Regions from separate parts of the Homo sapiens genome. Here regions 1 and 2 are each linked to region 3. The links come from fine-mapping of genetic effects on gene expression. A gene starts in region 3. Each other region holds a variant in brackets. All regions are shown on one strand. Distances are between the middles of the regions.

The links. PIP is the estimated chance that this variant, and not a neighbour inherited with it, causes the effect. A credible set is the group of variants that fine-mapping cannot tell apart.
Region 1: its variant is the best candidate, but not a certain one, in a credible set for the expression of TSPAN7 in thyroid (GTEx, PIP 0.63).
Region 2: its variant is the best candidate, but not a certain one, in a credible set for the expression of TSPAN7 in thyroid (GTEx, PIP 0.81).

Annotation. Positions count from the first base shown.
Region 1 is chrX:38,477,869-38,483,098 of GRCh38, forward strand. It overlaps the pseudogene BAG1P1. Among named protein-coding and RNA genes, the nearest start is that of TSPAN7, 81 kb to the right of the region's middle. The variant T/C (reference allele first, on the strand shown) is at 2,368.
Region 2 is chrX:38,486,388-38,491,617 of GRCh38, forward strand. No RefSeq gene overlaps it. Among named protein-coding and RNA genes, the nearest start is that of TSPAN7, 73 kb to the right of the region's middle. The variant C/T (reference allele first, on the strand shown) is at 3,165.
Region 3 is chrX:38,558,689-38,563,918 of GRCh38, forward strand. TSPAN7 (tetraspanin 7) reads left to right here and starts at 2,854. Exons shown (of 8, transcript NM_004615.4): 1 at 2,854-2,939. The coding sequence starts at 2,859. RefSeq lists an enhancer at 2,954-3,455.

The sequences.
Region 1 (5,230 bases), 81 kb before region 3:
TTCTGGTGAAATCCAGACTTTTCTCTGCTTTCTCCTATGATCTCTAATTTAGCCATCAGAATTGCTAAAATCCTGAGGAGAATATTTGCTTCTTGGGGAGTTTACACTAAGCAGAAAGCTTACATTAATTCAAAACTCATTCCTAATGTGTGTCCCCACCCCAATCCCCCAGGGATTAGTACCTGCTTTATTATTATTGCAATGAATAAATTATTCATCAGGGTGGCTAAACGGCTTACAGAGATAAATAACACTACATGAGTGTAATAAAGATATTTCCCTTTTCTAAATAAGTAGCACTTGTAACTCAACCTGTAAGACTGTGCTTCTTTCCAGAGAGGAAGAGTCCTCTAAATGGTACCTGAAGAGCAAGAGCTTTAAACAGGCCCTAGTGCAAAAGAGTTCAAGGCCTCAGTGATGCCTAGAATTCTGATTGTGCCAATTCAGTCCCTGCTCCCTCACTCTGGTATATCCAAGGCTACCACAAAGTGGAAGGAGGAGGATGTGTGGGCGAAGAGTGGGTGGAGAAGACTTCCAAGAATTGGAAACTATGCAGACTAGCAGCCGGTAGTTAATTAGTTTTACTTCTGAAACGACCCCTTTGTGCAGCTTGTCCTTCCTGAGAAAGAGGTTAAAATGCTGCCATGGCTGCTTTTTAGCAGTATAGTGATTAAAACAATCCCAGGGCCTAAATAAGATGACTCTACTTGTTTGGTTGAGGAGAGAGTGGTCCTCCTTCATTTTCTTTTTCTCCCCTCCTACTCACTGAACATCACATCAAAAAATGAGCAAATTCCTACACTTTACTTCCTATTCCTATAGGAGCTATTTAGAGGGAGGAATGCTCATTAAAGGAGATTCTAGAATCTAAAGTTGCCTGTTTTACTGAAACTGGGAAGCAAACTGGAGATGTTACTAGCACAGCTAGGACACAGTTGATAAAAGTAGCTAACATCTATTGTGCATTTAGCATATGCTGGGCCATCGCTTAAGGGCTTTTCATGGTTTATCTCATTTAATCATCACTACGATCTATGAGTTGGGTAGTGTTATGATTATGAGCATATATGTCCAGTTTTTCAGATGAATAAGCTGGGGCTGAGAAAGGTGAAGGGACTGGGCCAAGGTGAGTTAGAATGGAGGCAGGATTTAACCACAGTAGTCTGGCCCAGAGCCCATTGCTCAACCACTGTGCTACCTGCCTTCCAGCTTCCATTTGCCTATAGTCTAGTGGGAGTCATAAAAGAACTAAGAGAAGAAGATGAATCCAGACTGGAAGTGGATGGGCTCCTGGCTAGGCCAGGAGCCTCACCAGTCAGAGACCCTGGACCCCCTGGCCAAGCTCACCGCGGGTGAAGAAAAAAATCCACCCCTGCTCAGCCTGGAGCGAGAAGGTGACCAAGGAGGAAATGGTGGCAGCCAAGCTCAGCATGACCGTCACTCACAGCAATGAGAAGCATGACCTTCACGTTACCCTGCAGCAGGTCCAGCGGTGAACCAATTGCCCAAGACCTGACCCAGGTTGTTGGAGAGGCCACAGGGGTTCCACTGTCTTTTCAGAAACTCATATTTAAGGGAACATCTCTGAAGGAAATGGAGATACCTTTGTCAGCATGTGGAATACAAAATGGTTGCCAAGTCATGTTAATTGGGAAAAAGAACAGTCCAGAGGAAGAGGTTGAACTGGAGAAATTGAAAGAGTTGGTGAAGCCTGTGGAGAAGAAAGCTGACGAACTTTAAGAGTTGAATAAACAGCTTACTGGACTCCAGCAAGGTTTTCTGGCCAAGGATTTGCCAGCTGAAGCTCTCTGCAAACTTGGTAGGAGAGGAAAAGCCACAACCAAACAGTTTATGAAGATCTTGGAAGAGATCGACACACTGATCCTGCCAGAAAATTTCAAAGACAATAGATCAAAAAAGAAAGGTTTGGTAAAAAAAAAAAAAAAAAAAGTCAGACGTTCGTAGCTGAGTGTGGCACAGTGGAGCAGAACATCTGCCGGGAGACCCAGCAGCTGCAGTCTACAAACTTGGCCCTGGCTGAGTAAGGTGTGGCAGAAAGAGGCTGTGCTGCCCTGAAGAACAGCACCACCAGCTCTGCCCTCTCTGGAGCAGAATTTACCTGATTTATTCTAGGGACAACTGGCCTATTGCCAATTTTCCTATTCCTAGCCCAGTTCTCAGTGAAAAACTGTTGTCCTTGTGATCTTGAGTAGGGCGCTTGTCTGTTTTCTCATTGTGTCTCTGTGGCTGTGTGGTCCAGCAGCCTACTTTTTCTGGAGAGGGCCTCCCCTGCCCAGGTTTTCCCAGCTATTTGACCTTCTGGTGCTTTCTTTGGGCTGGTGAGATCTCTCCTTTGTCCTGAGCTAG[T/C]TCTAGGTTTATAGGCCACCCTGGTCTTCAGATACATGAGAGCTTTTTTGCTCTTGTGATCACACAGTCCCATAGATGTAAAACCAGAATCACTAGGAGGTTGCATTTATAATCAGGAATGTTGAGAATGGCTTAGAACAGGTGTTCGGCACATAGTAGTCCAAGTGTCCCTCATTGTGACTTAATTCCAGAACATCAGGCTGGGTTATTGGTTTATAGGCATTGTTCTTACCTTTTAGTGACCTGACTAGCCTCAAGACATGAAATATCAGGGGGCCATTCCTGGAATGAAGCGTATGGTTGATGCATGGACTTCCTCGTCCCCAGTAAAATCTTCAGAACCCAGTGTTGACTGAGTCCGTGCTTGAAACCAGGCATAGCAATGGCTTAGGCGGGGCAAAGAGGGGGAGCCACAATGAATAAAGCAGGCTGGTGGTGAAGCCAACCATAAATTTCCCAGGAATGACATGTGCTTCCTTCAAGGGCATTTCTGTTAAAAATACCCTTCTGAGATCTGTATTTCCTTCAAGGCCATTCTTGTCCATTTTGTGGATTCTCTTGCAGAATCACTGTTATTGAAAAAGTTTGAGCACAGGTATGGTGGCACATTCCTGTAGTCCCAGCTGCTTTTGGAGGCTGAGGCAGGAGGATCGCTTGAGCCCAGGAGTTTGCATGTAGCCTGGGCAACATGGTGAGACGCCATCTCTAAAAAATTAAAAAGTTAACGAATAAATAAATAAAACAGTTTGAATGCCCATCATCAAGCAGAAGAATGTTTTCTTTTTGTTTTGGTTAGTGAGAAAAACCATTCTGTGGTTCTAGGCATAATTTATGTTTAACAGAGTAGCCACAACGTTTAATAAGAAGTTACTGTGTCTTGGACATTGTTCTAAGTTTTTAAATATGTATTCACCATTTAATCCTCACATAACCTAAGAAGTAGACAGGTATTAGCCCCGTTTTGGAGATCAGGAAACTGAGAACACTTAGGTAATCTGCTGAAGGTCAGACAGTACATGGCAAAACCAGGGCACAAAGCTGGGCAGTTTGGTTTCAGAGCCACTGTTTTTACGCTCTACCGTACTACCTCTCGACCAACATAGGGTTACATGCTCCCATTCTCTATATCCTCTCCCTATACTTTTGTCTTCCATGTTAGTCTTTCCACTTTCTCTCTGGCCCTCTCTAGTTCATTCTCCCCAGAGCACTCTGAGTGATTATAAAATACAAATCTTATCATATCAGTCCCCTGCTCAGAAACCTCCAATAGCTCACTACTTCTCTTAGGATAAAAGCCAAAGTCCTTACCTACACCTTCTCCCATCTCATCTCGAGCCCCTCTCCTGTTTGCTCTCTGCTGTCAGCCACTCTGGTCTTCTTTCAGGTCCTCAGATGCACTGTGCCCTCTCTTACCTGGGGGTCTTTGCACATGCTGCTACTTCTGCTTGGACAGCTCCTCACCATCCTTCCTCCACCCCCATCCCTTGTGTACATAACTCTTATTCATCCTTCAGAATGTAACCCAAAGTCTCTTCCATGGAGACCTCACCTACTCTCTTGAGACCATATCAGGCCCCCAGATGTGATCCTCTCATGGCTACCCATAACTTTTCTTTCACAGCATTCACCATAGTCCATGATAGCTTATTGGTGGAATTATCTGGTTAGTATTTGCCTTTAACACTAGACTGCATGTTCCTTAGGTTAAGGAGCTTCTTTGTCTTGTTAACAGCATTATTTCAAGTACATTGTCTTGTATATAGTAGGACCTCAATAAATATTTGGAGAACAAAACAAACAAACAAACAAGGTGAACCCATGCCAGATGACTGGGTTGAGTTGGTCAGGGAAAATTTCACAGAAGGCAGATTGGAACTAGGCTGAAAAGCAGGCTGGGTTTGATTTAATGAAGTGGGCTATGAAGAGCATTCCAGGTGAGGGGAACCAAAGGAGCTTTACACGTCCTGGGACCAGCAAACTGAGCAGTTTGGCTATGGCAGAGAGCTCTTGCAGTCATTTGCAGGAGACCTTTATCACACTTCTAATCCATGAGAAGTAGCAGGGTGAATGTGAAGAACTCTCAGAGCCCAGTGACTATTGGTGCATATTAGCCAGGGCACAGCGGCACTGCAATGACAAGGCGATGGGCCTGCCAAGCCCTCCCCACTTCCTTTGGGCTGCCAGCATTCCTCTGAGTCTCCATGAGGTTTGTTTAATTCAGGGGGTGGCAGTAGGAAGCCCTCACACATTCTCCAATTTGGCTTTACCATCAGCAAAGCTATTTTGATTCCAATCTGGCTTCTTGGATGCAAGGAAAGATGAGCAATTGGCACCCCCAAAACTTCAACAATGGGAAAGTAATAGAAAATTCAGTTTAAAAGGTATTAATAAATTATACAGGGTAGACTAAGAAGAGTCTTGAAGGCTGGTATAAGGAACTTGGTCATACAAGAATTATTATAATTCTCTGTGCAAGTACACACACACACACACACACACACACACACAATGTTTATCCATAGAGGAAATCACTGTGGGACTTGTTTACAAATTAATCTCTTGAAATTTAATGTCATCAAATTCCCATCTTCCACAAATAAATTTGCTGAGAACTTTAAGTCATTAGCAAGTAAGTGTTTTCCAAGAATTATTTGATGACCAAAGAACAGTTTAACCTACTTGGGAGACTTTAATAAAGCTTTCTTCTACAGCCCCATTCTTGACATTAAAAAACATAATAAGTAATGGTTTGACAAATATTATGTATTATTTGGAAATACATTTTCTCATCCTTCTTCACAAACATTTTACCTCAAATTACAGCCTTTCAATTGGTCTCATAGGATTAGGTGATTTTTTTTCT
Region 2 (5,230 bases), 72 kb before region 3:
TAACATCTCTCGTTTTTCTGACTTTTTAGTAATAGCCATTCTGACTGGTGTGCGAGGGCATCTCAACGTGGTTTAAATTTGCATTGCTCTGATGATAAGTGATGTTGAGCATTTTCATATATTTGTTGGCTGCTTGTATGTTTTTTATTGAGAAATATCTGTTCATATTATTTGCCCACTTTTAATGGGGTTATTTGGTTCTTTTCTTTTTGAATTTTTGGAGTTCCATGTACATTCTGGGTATTAGTCCTTTGTTGGAAGCATAGTTCACAAATATATTTCTCTCATTCTGCAGGTTGCCTGTTTACTCCATTGATTATTTTTTGCTGTGCAGAAGCATTTTAGTTTAATTAAATTCCATTTTTCTATTTTTGTTTTTGCTGCATTTGCTTTTGAGGTCTTAGTCATAAATTCTTCGACTTGGGCAATATCCAGAAGAGTTTTTCCTAGATTTTCTTGCAGGATTTTTATAGTTTCAGGTCTTACATCTAAGTGTTTAATCCATCTTGAGTTAATTTTTGTATATGGTGAGAGATATGGGTCCAGTTTCATTCTTCTACATATGGCTATCCAATTTTTCCAGCACCATGTATTGAATATAGTGTCCTTTCCCTAGTGTATATTTTTGTCGACCTGGCAAAGATCAGTTGATTGTAGGTATGTGGCTTTATTTCTGGGTTCTCAATTCTGTTTCATTGATCTGTGTGTCTATTTTTGTACCAGTATCATGCTGTTTTGGTTACTATAGTCTTGTAGTATAATTAGAAGTCAGGTAATATGATACCTATAGCTTTGTTCTTTTTGCTTGACTGCTTTGGCTGTTTGGGCTCTTTTTTTTTTTTGGTTCCATGTAAATTTTAGGATTGCTTTTTTCTAATTCTTTGAAAAATGACACTGATAATTTGATAGGGGATACATTAAATCTGTATATTGCTTTGAGTAGTATGGTCATTTTAACAGTATGGATTTTTCCATTCCATGAGCACGTGTTTTTCTATTTTTTGTGTTTGACTTCTATGATTTCTTTTACCGGTGTTTTATAGTTCTCCTTGTAGCTTTTGATAACAATTTAATTCCTCTTTCTTTCCTAATTGTTAGAAAGGAGTCTTTATTTGTCATTTGGCTCATTTTTTACCATAATTCTAAGATGAGGTAAGAACATCAAAAGTACTCATAGTGAAATCCCTCTAAATCTTCATTTGTGAGTTAAAACTCCCTTGTTTTTAAATTTAGAGGCTTATGTACATATTTTTTTCCTGCTCCTAATCCCTCATTGGGAGTGACCATTAGTTACAGTTTGTCCAAAGTGGTCCTGTTGTCTTGGTATAATGATTAATAGCACCCCTTTCCCTCTCAAAAGGGTCCTTGTTTGGAATATATATTACATGGTCACCTTACCCATTGAGAAGGAAAAGAAAACCTATACTATGAATAGAGTTTGTAAAACATTGAACTTGACCATGATTTGTTTCCATTTTATTACTTAATCATACCAGTAAGAACCCTATCATAAATTTTCTATTCATCACTTTATATTTTTTATTCATTGACCTAATTATTTCTTCTAGAAAGTTCTATTGAATGGCATATGTACCAGGTGTTTTGTTAGGTACTGGTGGCTTCTTAGGGTTCAGGACCTTGCTCCATTAACTGAAACATCATGTGAATGAGTGCAAAAGACAAAAAATACAGATTTATAAATCCTACCAAAATAGAAAATAATCCATATAAGTTGAATGAGTTGGCCATTTCCTGTTGGAAGATGTTCTCACAGGGTATCCTCCGGCTTTGTGAGTCCATGCTTAGTATTTTATTTTCCTAAATACCACTTTCCTGGTGCTGTTTCACAATTAGAACACTTTTGTATGTTTTCTAACAAACAAGAAGGCATATTCTATTCAGGGTAAACAAGATTTGAACCCCAGAGAAGAGAGTTTTGCTTTGAACTTTGGACTTCGGACTAAATAAAAATAAAAATTCATTTTTTTCAGCAGCTTTCAATTTGTATTTTCTCTGTTGCTGAAAACTGACATCTTAAAATTTCAAAAAGAAGCCTGGAGTCTTCCTTTACTGCTTAAGGTAAAATATGAACACATATCCTTTATCTAAATACAGGATATATTGTCATTTTTAATTTCATGGATGGTTGTAGTCCAAAAGTATTCTCATATTGCATTTGAAATTTGCAAAAACTGTTAATATTCAGAAATAGTCACATTTTTCAATCTTGGGGGGAATTAACTGGATAAAACATGAGTGCATAGTTCTGCAGTCTTCCTGGCCTTGGTTCTAGGGCAGAAAAGAGGCTGGCAGTGTAGAGGAGGAGGAAAAACAAAAATTCAAACCCAAGAACAACCCTAGCAGGTAACTAAATAAGAGATAAATTAAACCAGATGCAATGCTCTCCAAATGACTGCAAAGAAAATGATTGTTTTCTACCTTGTACATAAACAATTAATCATCATATTGACCTTATAATAAGGAAATGCTAAGCTTAGAGAAAACTTCACCATATAAAATATTACCTGCATTGCAGCATGTCAGGGTCATTTAATATATTTCAATTTCCTATACATTTACTTATTCCTCTTGGAAGAGAATAATGTCTATATAAACCTTTCCAGATGAGATAGTTTTCTGCCTTGTGCAAATGTTGACAAATCTTTCCGTCATTACTTTAGAAAAAAAAAAGAGCCAATATCAGAGCCATACTCTGGAGGTAGTTAAGCACACAGCCGTTAGAATCAGACCAAGGTAGGCTCAAAACCCAGCTTCGTCACTGTGAGTGTGAACTTAGGCAGGTAATATAACTTCTATTAGCCTCAGCTTTCTTGCTTATAAAATGGAGATGTTAATATCTCACAAGTATGCTACAAAGGTTAAGTGATAAAATGCACAAGAAAATGCTGCCAAACAAGTAGAAAGAACTCAAAAAATGGTGCTATATGATCGATCAGTTTTGGAATAAAATTTCAGAGATCCTCTCAAACCCCAGTAAGTATCAGAAGCAGATCCCAATATGTTTTTGATCCAAGTTTTCTCACTGCTAGACCTCTTTTGCTGAATCACCCTCTGTGGGTGGCTACACCCTTTCAAGCACGAAAGCACATAGGTACAGCTTTGAGTGTTCAAGATCAAGGCATTTAGAACACAAGCAAAGGCAG[C/T]TCCTCTTACTTCCCTTGGCTGAGCAAGCATCAACAATGCCTCCCGAGGCATTGATCGTTGTGGAAGCAGGAGGAGCAGTGCAAAGGTGGCAGAAGTATGTTTTCTCAGTTCTCCAGACCAAGATAATTATCCATTACAGAAAAAAAAAAAAAAAAAAGAATGAGTGCCTATTTTGTAGGATAGGGTAAGATTCTGAAACATTACACGTGAGTGGTAAAATTCACCTTCCCTTTCACTCAAATATAAACCTTGGGATGCCTTGAGAATCTTTGATCAGATTCCCCAGAAGTAGTCCCTGATATGAGGATTCCTGTGCAAGTGATTTATGGGGAAGGTGCTCCCACAGGGAGACCAAAACAAAGTGGGGAAAGCAGGACAGAGAAAGAAGCCAATAAACAAAGCTTCAATGTCAGGAAATATCACAGCTTAGTCATGATCTCAAGGTGGAGCTCTGGGGTGCAAATCACACCTAGAGTTTATTTCAACATGAGACAAGGGAACTGGGCTTTTATATTCTTGCCCAATGGTCGTGGGCCTCCCCAGGGTAATAAAAAACTCCCAGGGTACATGGGAGGTATGTACAAGTGAAGCAACTCCATTAGTCCAAGAGAAAGCCGCCAAAGAAGGTCACAGGTGCTAGTAACTAGCAGAAAAGCACCCTGAAATTGGGTGCTGAGCATATCAAACAGGGAGAAGGGAATTTGGGTAGGGCGTGTACAGTATCCAGCACCAGCTTGCTACCCTGCTTGACCTTGGAAGGTATCAGAATTCAGTGGTAATGAGGAACCCCAATCAGAACCTTTTTTTTTTTAACCAGGAATCTAATAGATAAGATGAAGACTGTCTTATAGGTATTAACCTATATTTATTCTTCCTTGCTACTTCCATTTACAGGGAATACAGCGGTTTTGGAACCTACATCTGTAGTCTCCTTTACCATCCCTGAAACTCCGTCACTCTCATCAGGGGTCCTCATTTGTAAACATACCAGCCAAATCAGGTCCAAAGCTCTAGCTAAGAAAGCATTGCATCTTTTTTCTGACCCTCTACTCCGTTTGACAGCATTCCCCATATTGGAACCACATATTGATTTTTTTAAATAGCTTCACACAACTACTTAAAAGTCAAAATATCCCTGGCAACCGAAAAACTGACAGGCCGTGAAATAGCTGCTTAAGGACCTGTCATCCAAACTGAACTCACCTGAAAACTGAAAACTGATTTTACACAAACAGTAAAATGGTTTCTGTGTATTTGTCATTTTTCTAAAAGAGACTGTAAGGGGTACTGAGTTTAGTTCTGAGCTGTTCTGCTTTAGACAAGGGACCACCTTGCACCAGGCAGTTATGAAATAAGAGTTGTTTCATTTTCTTCTCCCAAAACACACACACTCAGTCTCCTCCTCACCCCACCTGTGCCCTCCACTAAAATCACTGAGAAGCTTGCCCATGGCCCACCCTAACAGGTTTGCTTCCCCAAATCCTACCTTCCCTGTGCTTCCCACAGGTACCTCAAGCAAGCAGCACTTCTCAACTGGGGCTGATTTTGTCCCCTGGAAGACATTTGGCAATATCTGAAGATATTTTTGGTTGTCACAGCTGGGGAGAGGGCACAACTGGTATCTACTGTGTAGAGAAGCATTTTTGGCCTCTACATCAGTTTTTTAAAAATCAGTATTTAAGGGGAGACACTGTTCTGTGCACTGTCTCTCCCCCGCATCAGACAAACAAATACATCTGTATATGTACAAATGTAAATAGCTTCACACAAGTACTTAGAAGTCAAAATATCCCTCGCAACCCAAACTGATGTTACACAAACAGTAAAATGGTTTATGTGTATTTGTCATTTTGTACATCTCCAGCCCCAAATGAATGTCAATAGTGCTGAGGTTGAGAAACCCTGTATATGTTGGTGTCTTAGTGTAGGTTTCGTCAAAAACAGACCCTGAGACAAGGATTTGAGTGCAACTAGTTTATTTAGAAGGTGATCCCTGGAAGCACTAGTAGGGAAGAGGGTAAATGAGAGAGTGAAGGGATAAACAAAATAATAATAAAATGAGAGA
Region 3 (5,230 bases):
GTTAGGACTTCAGCCGCACCTAGCCTGGACTTCAATATATCTTTTGGGAGGACACAATTCAATCCATAATACATGACAGACATTACTGTGCATCTGACTCCCCTGGAGATCTTGTTAACATGGGCTTGGAGTGGGGCTTGAGGTTCTGCATGTTCAAACAGCTCTTCCAGTGGATGTCAATGCTGCCAGCTCAGGGTTAGTGTGACTAATATGTTCTGGTTTGCGCAAGGCCTTCCTGGTTTTAGCAATGAAAATCCTGAATGCAGGGAAACCCCTCAGTCCTGGGCAAACTGGGATGGCTTGTCACCCTATATATATGTCATGGGCCACAATTGGAGAGCAAGGATCTAGCTACAAGCTATGTTAATTTATCTACTAATTACATTACTGAATATTCATATTTATCTTTATATTTAAATGGTTTATTTTTGCTAGAACAGTCCAAGTTTTCAAGAATCTGGACCTAAGAGATATTCCAAAAATGCTCCAAACTGTGAGACGGTGAGTTAGCTTAAACTGATGGGTGTCTTCTGTGAATGTCATATATTAACTCACCAAATTATCTATGATGCTTAGCAGTGTCACTGTTGGGCTGAACATTGAGATTTCTGACCTCTTTACAAAATAATTATACATGGCCAAGATCTTTTGATGCTAAGGATACCCACTGGGCTTGAAGTCTTCAGTATCCTTTCCCTGCTGCTGCAGCAGTTGGAATCAGCCTGGAGTCTGTAAGAATGAAAGAGAAAGCTCCTCTCTGAAGTTGGGTTTAAGTTCATTGCAGTATGGGGCAATGCCCCTCAACTCTTGCTTAATATTCAGACCACCTGAAGAGCTTCTAAAACGCGGAGCTTTCACCCCACACCAAATGACTCCAAATAGCTGGGATTGGGCACAGGCATTCATAATTGTTTTAAAACACCAGGTGATGCAAATGAGCACCCAGCATCGAGAATCAGTGTGCCAAGACCCCTTTATAACAGACACCTTGCTCAACCTGTCCCTTCTTTCACCTGCACCTATATTCCACCCTTGTATGCCCACATACCTTTTTGTTATAGTTGACAATTTCCTTAAACAGGTTCTCCTCTTCCTCATATTTTTGTCCTGTTCATACAGTTACCTTATTGACCTGAGACCACATATAACTGGATAGAGGTAATAATTACTCCTGTAACAACTGACCTTAGCAGGCTTTTCCCAAGCCTTATTGACTCTGTTTTTCACTCTTTCACAAATATGTATCCTTAACATCATCATCCACGATTGAGTTAACCTGTGATAGTGTTGCTGTTTTTGACTAGTCTCTTAGCAATCAAGCTAAATCTCCCACTGAATCTGTGTGTTCCTCTACAAACCATATCTGGGTGGAATGTACGTTTTTATTGTGATATAATTAATATATCATAAAAGTCATCCTCTTAAAGTATACAACTCAGTGGTTTTTAGTAATTCACAGTATTGTGCAACCATCATCACTATGTAATTCTAGAACATTCTCATTACTCTAAAAAGAAGCCGCTTACCCATTAAAAGTCACCTCATTCCTGCCTCCCACTCGCTGCAACCACTAATCTCTTTTGTCTCTATGGATTTGTCTATTTTGGATATTTCCTATACATGAATCATTCAATATGTGGTCTTTTGTGTCTGGCGTCTTTCGCTTAGCATATTTTCAAGGTTCATCCACGTTGCAGCATTTACCAGTAGTACTTCATTCTTTTTTGTGGCCGAATAATTTTCCGTTGTATGGAGGCACCGAATTTTGGTCATCCACTCATCAGCTGACGGATATTTGAGTTGTTTCCAATTTTTGGCTATTGTGAATAATGCCGCTATAAACATTCATGTATATGGTTTTGTGTGGGCATATATTTTCATTTCTCTTGGGTAAATACCCAGGAATGGAGTTGCTAGATCATATGCAAACTCTGTTCAACTTTTTGAGGAACTCCAAATTGGTTGTGAACATTATTTTTTGACCTCAATGCAGCTTTCCTTTACAGGAGGGAGGTGGACTGTACTTGTTAGCGCGCTGCAAATGATTCTCAGGCATATTAAACATTTTTCTGTATTCTGTTAAACATTGTATGCGCAGCAAGAATGACGCCTCATACAGACCTTTCTTGTCATTTCGTTTTATTATTTCAAAATGTAAGACAAATCTGAAAAATGGAGGAGCCTGCAGATACCTGTGGTGGCGAGGATTTGGGGTCTGTCTGAGCTCCGGCGTTCCTGCCCATCCCTCCAGCTGTATCTCTGGCCACCTGTCTGTTCCTGGCACAAACAAGGCCTGCTGGTTGCCAAGGACATGACTACGGGGCCATTTCCATGTGAGAAGGCCCTGGGGGGTGTCAAAATGCAGAAACGTGACTGATGGGCAGCGGGGCACCCATAAACTTCCCATAGCCAGGTGCAGGCATACCTGCAAATGTAACGCCCAACTGTGTACAAAGCAGAAATCTAAATGCCAGGGCGGACTGGGAGAGGTTCCCGTGACCTCTGACCCGGCCTCTAAATTCTCCCATTCCCTCCCCACTGTCCTGCCGCGCCCCGTGTCGCCTCGCCTGGCCTCGCCTGGCCTCGCCTCCCTCCTCCGCTGGGGGTCTAAGCCTGCGCAGTATTGCGAACGCGGGCGGCGTTTCCCGCATGCGCAGTCACTGCCCGGCCCGGCTTTTTCAGTAGGAGCCCCGCGCGGTGCGCGCTCACGCACGCGCACGGCCTCGCCTGCGCGCTCACGAGGCCTCTCGCGGCACGCGCCCCCGCCCCGCGCCGCCCCGCCCCGCCCCGCCTCTTCCCCCTCCCGCGCGCCCGCCCGCCGCCTGCCGCCGCCGCCGCCGCCGCCGGAGCTCTGTAGTATGGCATCGAGGAGAATGGAGACCAAACCTGTGATAACCTGTCTCAAAACCCTCCTCATCATCTACTCCTTCGTCTTCTGGGTAAGTGCCCACGCCGGGCCGGTGGCCGAGTCGCTGTCCATCGGTCCGTATGATGATGCTCTGAGAAAAGAAGTGGGGAGGAAAACCCAAACCAAAAATCAAATCTGGGACCCCTCTTTAAGGAGACAGGCGCGGGGTGCTGGGTCGGGGCTGCAGGATGGCAGGGTGCGGGTCGGGGCTGCTGGAACCCTAGACCTCGCTCCGCGCAGGCTGCAAGGGGCTGCGGAGTGTCGGTGACTGCAGGTTGTCGACCTTCCAAAAAAAAAATGTTAATGCATTAGTTTCTTTTATAATCTCCCGGGATAGGGTCAGCTCCTGGGGAAAGTTGCGGGTTTATTCGTCTGTTTTCCTCGCTGTACACCTTTCTCTCCCTTCCCCTACCAGCCGGTTCGCGGCGCCTCTTGGAGCTAACCTGTGGCGGGCTAGGAGAGGACACGGGAGCGTGGGGTTTAATCTCAGATTCCCAGTTATTCCTGACCCCACGGGGCTGCGGGAGGGAGGCACCAGAAGCACCGTGCCTGCCTGGCTGGGCAAGGGCGACCGAAGTCTCCCAAGCGCACGATGGGGAGCAGGCGTTGTCACCGCGTGGAGGCGCACGAAAGGGAGAGGGTCTTACATAAGCCGGGGGCATCTTTGAGGTTTCTTGGTGACCCAAGAGATGAGTCTTTGGATTCCTTTCCCACCTCCCTGCATCCTTACACTCCCTATCTGGTGGTTCTGTCACTGCATGAGCACAATCCGCAGCGCCCTGGCAGAGGGTCCCCTCCACTTGGTGATAGAGATAGCGCCCCAACTCTACTCCCCATCTATCCAGTGCTGCCGCCGGTCCTTGAAGCTCAATGCAGAAGGGTGACGTCACCCCTCAGCCAGGGCCGCGGGGGGCTGCGTGGTGCACCTCGCGGAGGGATGCGCCTTTCTGCGCGGGGGAGGGGGGAGGAGGAGGAGGGGGAGGAGGAGGAGGAGGAGGGGGCTCCAGGCTTGTGCCTTACCTCATCCTGTTTGGCAAATCATGGAATCAGTGCAGGGCTGACACTGCAGTGATTCACTGAGAGAGGTGCGTGGTACTTAAAGACCATTCCCTGTTATTTCTCTTTTCATGTCGGTGACCCCGTCTTCCCTAGTTCCTTACGCCCATAATCAAGCTACAGCTACCCCGCAGGGGAATGAATATCGACCCTCTTCCCCCCTTGTCCCCCAAATCTGGGTCATTTTAGCTTCTACGGCAGTCATTTTGAAATCTGAGGCTCTGTAGGAAAAGCCAGTTCAACCTTTGCTTGTTTTCTTCTTGCACCCCTCACCCCCGCCCCTCACCCACCACCATATATTAGCCCTATTTTTGCTTTGAAACTGGAGCACAGTGCTGTATGAGGTACCGAGAATCAGCTAGATGGCAAACCGGACTGTTTGCAATGGTCAAGGAAGAAGCAGAGATTTATTGAGGATCAAAAATATTCCTAATGCACCCGGACATTTCCTTATCGCTGGCGTTGGTGGTTCTTCAAGTCAGGGAAGGTATGGACTCCCCAGACCACACATACCAGGAGCTCTGCAATGAGCTAGGATAGATTAACTGGCATATTGCACAAGGCAAACACAGAAACGGACTTTATTTGGACTGACAACGACACAGGTTGAAATGTCTCAGTAGTGGAATTGTGAGCTATGCACAGATCATATCATCTTATGCTCTGCCTGTAAAAAGCAGTAACACATGCTGATTGCTGAAACTTCCCAGTAGCCATTCCTGGGAACTGGTTTAGCTTTTTATGTGTTTCCTTAAATCTCTTTTTGTTTGGCCCTTTATCATTTACTTGACTTCCTATTTGTTACTGGAGTGAATCATATTGGGAGGGGGGAGGTATTTTTATCTTCCTTAAAAATAAGGTTAACAGTGCACATGAAGAAATATTGTTCTTTCAGAATCACTGCAAGCTGGTAAAGAAGGGGGTCTTCCAGGCTGAGGCTTTTCATATGAGCACTTTAACTCTCCTTGCTTACATTCCACCCCTATGAATCTAATTACTTAATGCCCCCAATACATCTTAAACAATCACTGCATTTTATGTCCTCCGGAAGTTCCTTGATGCCTTCATTTTAATTTTTTCTACTTTCAAGATTTTCATAGTCTTAAATGTTAACCTGGAACATTTTCAATAGTTTAAATACCAAAGCCAGTTCTGGCTTTGGTTGTTGTAATCATTTCATACTTACAACCAAAAGAATAAGATCTCTTCGGATGTGTGAGGATATTTTAAACAAGACGTTATTTTTAAGTAGCCTTATTGAGGCAT